Linked DNA regions of Homo sapiens: region 2 is linked to region 1. The links come from fine-mapping of genetic effects on gene expression. A gene starts in region 1. The other region holds a variant in brackets. All regions are shown on one strand. Distances are between the middles of the regions. Region 1 holds the start of THAP8 (THAP domain containing 8). Region 2 has its middle 6.6 kb from the start of DMKN.

Region 1 (2,908 bases):
AATCATTTCTTTCCATTTTTCTGTCTCAGGATTTAGGGAACTGTTCTGTACGCCCTCCTCCCCAGGCAGCACTGCAGAGATTTTATAAATAACTTCTCACGTCTTTCTCATAGTTTTGAGTGACAATATGGATTAAGAATCCCACCTTGGTGAGGAAAAAGGATAGAGATCGCAGAAGGTGAGAGAAGGCGGGGTAGAAGCGAGGAAGAGTTGGGGCAGGTAACACTCTGGACCGAACCCTCGAAGGGACCTTAATGACTCAGCGGGGGCCAGGGCAGTGAGGCTGCAGTGAGCTATGATCGTGACGTCTAAAGGCGATAGAACGGGGGTTAAAATATAGCAGGACTAGGCTGTGATTTACAGAAGCAAAATGCATTTCCACGGGTGGGAACCAGCGAGGAACCCCCGAATTGCTCCAACGCTGAGGGTGGAGCCGGGAAAGCAGCGAGGAGAAAGTGGGAGGGGCCGTGGCTAAAGGGGCGGGGGTTAGGGGACGAGGCATGGCAGGGAACAACCTGAGGGGACTGGCCGGGGGCTGATGTCGGGGCCACAGTTCTCAGGACGGGACTAGGGGAAACCTAGGAAGCCTGGAACTGGGGTAGACATGGCGAGCAGCTTCTCACCCGGTTCTGCACCGTCTCCTCGGAGGCCGTCGAGAGTCGCGTCCGCCGCCGTAGGCAGATTGGTGGGGCGGGGGGCGGGGAGGACTGGCCCCTCCGCGCCGGAACTCCCGCCATGACAGAGGGCAGCTTCTCCCCTGCATCGTTCCGCGCATAGCCTCCGGACCCTACGGCCGCCATCGTCACGCCGGAGGCGGGCGACCGTTACATCCCCTAACCGCCGCTGCCGCCACCGCCACGACCCACTGGAACAGCGAACAGCCGCGGGAAAGCCGGCGCCACCGCCTATTGGACGCGACGGGCCCGGCCTAGCCAATCGCAGGGATGCCGGGCGGCGCTTAGAACCAATGGGGGCGAAGAGGCGGAGCGAGTGCCTGGCGGGGCGGGGCCACAGCCAGTGTACTGGATGCCTGATTAAGCGTCATGGGGTCTTTCATCCAGACTGCGTTTTCATTATTCGCTGAAACATACAGGTTTTAATTTTTACGAGGCTAAGGCCACGGCCGCCTCACCTCGGTTTTTGCCGCCACCTAGAGGAACTATGTGCGCCCCAACGGTTGCCCGGATGTAGGCGTAGGGTGGAGCCGTAAGAGATTGACTAGCCAGTTGATTTGGTTGGCGCAGGCTCAGAAACGCCGTGACGCCGCCCTTCCCCCCAACACGTGATGAAAGTCGGGGTGACGAAGGGCCGGCTTTGCGCAGGTGCACAGTACTCGCTATGGCCCATTCGTCACGTGACGAGGGCGGGACTGTGGCACTGTGGAGGGGCGCCTAGTAGGCAGGCGCTCTCAGCTCTCTCCCCGGTACGTGACGAGACTCCACGGACGTCACGTGAGGCAGGCGGCGAGCGCGGGTGGGGCGGGGTTAGGCGGCGCTCCGCGAGAACCAAAGTGCAGCCGCTGACCCGGCAAAACTCAGCGGGGGCTGGATAGCCATGCCCAAGTACTGCAGGGCGCCGAACTGCTCCAACACTGCGGGCCGCCTGGGTGCAGACAACCGCCCTGTGAGCTTCTACAAGTGAGCGCAGCGCGGGGCGGGGCTTGAGGGAGGCGGGACCCTGAGAGGGGTGGGGCCCGAGCATTAGTGCTGCTGTGCGGGGCTTCTGGTCTTGCTTGAGGGTGTTAGGAAGTGGGGTTAAACCATGAGGAGATGGCCTTCCTGGCAGTGTCCATTGCACATACAAAGGTGCAGGCGTGGGAAACAGGAGTAGACGATTGACTACAGATAGCGAGCGAAGCGAGCCGAAGAGTGAAAGGGATGTAAGAAGTGAAGTCGGTGCAGGCTGTTAGAGAGCCTGCAGATGCCCACTTGCCCTCCCCACGCATTTGAGCCATCTGAAACTCAGAGCATCCGAAACTGAGCTTGCGATCGTGTCTCCCCAAAACCTTCCAGTCTGTCTTATCTTAGTAGCGTGCTTCATTCTTCTTGTTGCTTAGGTTTAAAAAATGTCATCCTTACCTCTTTCGTCATACTTGGGAAAGTCAGAATTAGCTTCGACTGTAAAAGATCTGTCTCCTTATTTATCTGGCTGACATAAGCCAGTTGGTGGAAGAATTACTAGGAAAAAACATTTCTTTGCTTTTTTTTTTTTTTTTTTTTGAGACAAGATCGCTTTGTCGCCCAGGCTGGAATGCAGTGGAACGATCACAGCTCACTGCAACCTCGACCTCCCGGGCTCAAGTGATCCTCCCACCTCACCCTACCAAGTAGCTGGGACCAGAGGCACGCGCCACCATGCCTGGATAATTTAAATTTTTTTTTTTTTTTTTTTTTTTTTTTTTTTTTGCCAGGCTTGGTGGCTCACGCCTGTAATCCCAGCACTTTGGGAGGCCGAGGCGGGCAGATCACCTGAGGTCAGGAGTTCGAGACCAGCCTGGCCAACATGGTGAAACCCCGTGTCTACTAAAAATACAAAAATTAGATGGGCGTGGTGGCTCATGCGTGTAATTCCAGCTACTCCGTGGGCTGAGGCAGGAGAATCGCATGAATCCAGAAGGCAGAGGTTGCAGTGAGCCAAGATGAGGCCACTGCAATCCAGCGTGGGCAACAAGAGTGAGACTCCGTCTCAAAAAAAAAAATTTTGTTTTTAAAGAGAGAGATGGGATCACCCTATGTTGTCCAGTCTAGTCTCAAACTCCTGGGCACAAGCAGTCCTCCTGCCTCGGCCTCCCAAAGTGCTTGGATTACAGGCGTGAGCCACTGCACCCAGCCAGGAAAAAATATTTCTCTTGGACATACTGCAGATGTAAAGTGGCAGAATTCCCATCCTTTGAGTGTCTACTGCTTTC
Region 2 (2,908 bases), 530 kb after region 1:
TCTTTAACTCTTTAAGTCTCCCACAACCCAAAGGCAGAAGCCCTGTTATCGTCACCGTTGTATGGATGAGGATGCTGCGGCTCAGTGGGACAAGGGCGCCCACAGAGAAAGCAGCAGGCCTGGGTCTGGCTCCGTCTGTCGCCAGCACCTGACTTCTCGTGGTTCCCGGTGAAGTCTCTGTAACACTCCCAGGCACTAGCCTGGGTGCTGGGAGACTTGCGTTCCAATCGGGAGCAAGATGCCTGAAGGCCGCCTACTTCCCCTCTAGGGGCCACGATTTCCTCCTGTATAAAGGGAGGCAGGGATTCGACAACTGTTGCTTCCAGCTACAAAATTCCATCAATGGGGGACTGAAAATAATAGACAGTGTTCTTGCCCTTGGGGAATTCACAGCCTTCCTGGGAGGCAAGGCCTATAAACAGAATGTGAATGCAAACACACAAAGCCACGCATCAATAAGAGCTCAATGACCGGCAAGGGGAGGGGCCTGCATTTGTGCAAAAAATGGGACGTTCCTCACTTTATAGTCACTGCATTTTCCCTTATTTTGTGGAATACCATCATTTCATTACATATGCTCCTTCCCTCCCCCTGCGATATTTTATTTTGAAAACATTTCAAGCATCATGAAAAGATGAAAGAATTTTATAGTGAACACCAGAATTCTCACCACTTAGATTTTACCATACTTGCTTGGTCACACATCTGTCCATTTAGCCCCATATCAAACATTTTTGATGTATTTCAAAGTAAACTGTAAACATTATATTTGCTGCATTTTGTCTTATTTATTTTTTGAGACAGAGTCTTGGTCTATCGTTCAGGCTGGAGTGCAGTGGCACAGTCATGGCTAACTGCAGCCTCAATCTCCTGGGCTCAAGCAATCCTCCCACCTCAGCCTCCCAAGTAGCTGGGACTACAAGCACACACCACCATGCCTGGCTAATTTTGTAATTTTTTTTTGTAGAGACGAGGGTCTCATAATGTTGCCCAGGCTGGTCTTGAAATCCTGAGCTCAAGCAATCCTCCTGCCTCAGGCTCCCAAAGTGCTAGGAATACAGGTGTGAGCCACAGCACCCAGCTGCTTGCTGCACTGATATAAATAGAACCTTCCATTCATGTCAGATACTGATTGAGGGTCTGCTCCGTGCTGGACATCATCTCACAGGTATTGGGGGAGGCCCTACTTAAAAGAATCCTATAGTGGCGGCTTTCGAAAAGGCAACATTCAAGGGACTCTTTCTTTCTTGAAGTAAAAGCTTTCATTGACTTTATTTTTATTTAAAAAAATATACATATATGTGTGTGTATATATATACGTGTATATATATGTATATATGTGTATGTATATATATATATTGAGACAGAGTCTTGCTTTTTCATCCAGGCTGGATTGCAGTGGGGTGATATCGGCTCACTGCAACCTCTGCTTCCCAGGCTCAAGCAATTCTCCTGCCTCAGCCTCCCTTACAGGTGCGCGCCACCACACCCAGCTAATTTTTGTATTTTCAGTAGAGACGGGGTTTCACCATGTTGGTCAGGCTGGTCTTGAACTCCTGACTTCAGTTGATTCGCCCGCCTTGGCCTCCCAAAGTATTGGGATTACAGGCGTGAGCCACCGCG[C/A]CTGGCCATCACCCGGCTGACTGACTATTTTTTAGGCACATTTTCTTGCTGGGTTTGCTTGGATGGGGGTCCTGAAAATACCAAAGAGATACAAGATAATTGATAGGCACTGAGTCAGTCCTGGGAAGCTTCTGAAAAAGGAGAGCTTTGAGTCGGTTTTGAGGGTAAAAGACGCCTGGCTCTCTCCTGCCTGGAGGTCTTCTGTGCTGTTCCCTCTACTAGGAACACTCTCCATGCCCCTCGGCCCCTCATACTGGCTCTTCCCTACCCTTTGCATCTCAGCTACCTTGACCGCTCAACCTGAGCTACGGCCACCCTGTCACTCTCTCTCATAGCGCTGATCTTGTTTTTCTTGTTGGTTATGACAATCTGTAATCATATTACAAATATCGTATCCATTTCCCCCCAGACAAAGAGGTTCAAGCAGTGATGTCAAGGCCAGGCATGAATGTCTGGCAAGGAGCAGAAGGGAAGCCACTGACTTGAGCAGGTTGGGAAGGGCCATGGAACGAGTGTGAGCAAGACACAGGCTGCTTTGCCTGAGATGGGTGGAGCCAGGCTAGGGAGAAACACAGAGAGGAAGGGCCGGTTTCTGAGGATGTTGAAGAACAGGGAGAGGAGTTTGGGTGTGGCTCTCACCGGGCATCTTTTACAGGGTCTGTGCTAAGCACTTACAGGCATGATTCATTTCATCCCCACAACCATCCGGGAGGCAAGTACCATGATCATTGCCCTCACAGATGTTGAAGAAGAGGTGCACGGAACGGAGCGTGTTGCCTGAGGCCACCCTGCTAGTCAGTGGTGATGGCCAGGCTCCAGTTCAAGGGCACTTCCCTGCTGAACATCTCTAGCAGTGAGGTGGCATGCTGCCCTTGCGACCCCCAGGAAGCGGGAGGGGGCTACATCCAAATGAGTGGGTTTTTTTTTTTTTTTTTTTGACAGAGTCTTGTTCTGTTGCCCAGGCTGGAGTGCAGTGGTGCGATCTTGGCTCACTGCAACCTCCGAACCCCGGGTTCAGGAGATTCTCCTGCCTCAGCCTCCTAAGTAGCTGGGATTACAGGCGCACACCACGCCTGGCTAATTTTTGTATTTTTAGTAGCCATGAGGTTTCACCATGTTGGCCAGGCTGGTCTCGAACTCCTGACTTTAGGTGATCTGCCTGCCTTGGCCTCCCAAAGTGCTGGGATTACAGGTGAGAGCTACCCTCTCCTGGCTCCAAATGAGTGTTCTTTAAAAGTAAGTTTCTGCATCTGGCATTTTTTTTTTAATTGAGGCAGGGTCTCAC

What was found. PIP is the estimated chance that this variant, and not a neighbour inherited with it, causes the effect.
Region 2: its variant is fine-mapped to the expression of THAP8 in atrial appendage (GTEx, PIP 0.99).

Annotation. Positions count from the first base shown.
Region 1 is chr19:36,052,864-36,055,771 of GRCh38, reverse strand. It overlaps THAP8 (THAP domain containing 8), which reads left to right and starts at 1,487. Exons shown (of 4, transcript NM_152658.3): 1 at 1,487-1,637. The coding sequence starts at 1,555. WDR62 (WD repeat domain 62) reads right to left here and starts at 875. Exons shown (of 32, transcript NM_001083961.2): 1 at 624-875. The coding sequence starts at 800.
Region 2 is chr19:35,518,809-35,521,716 of GRCh38, reverse strand. No RefSeq gene overlaps it. Among named protein-coding and RNA genes, the nearest start is that of DMKN, 6.6 kb to the right of the region's middle. The variant C/A (reference allele first, on the strand shown) is at 1,624.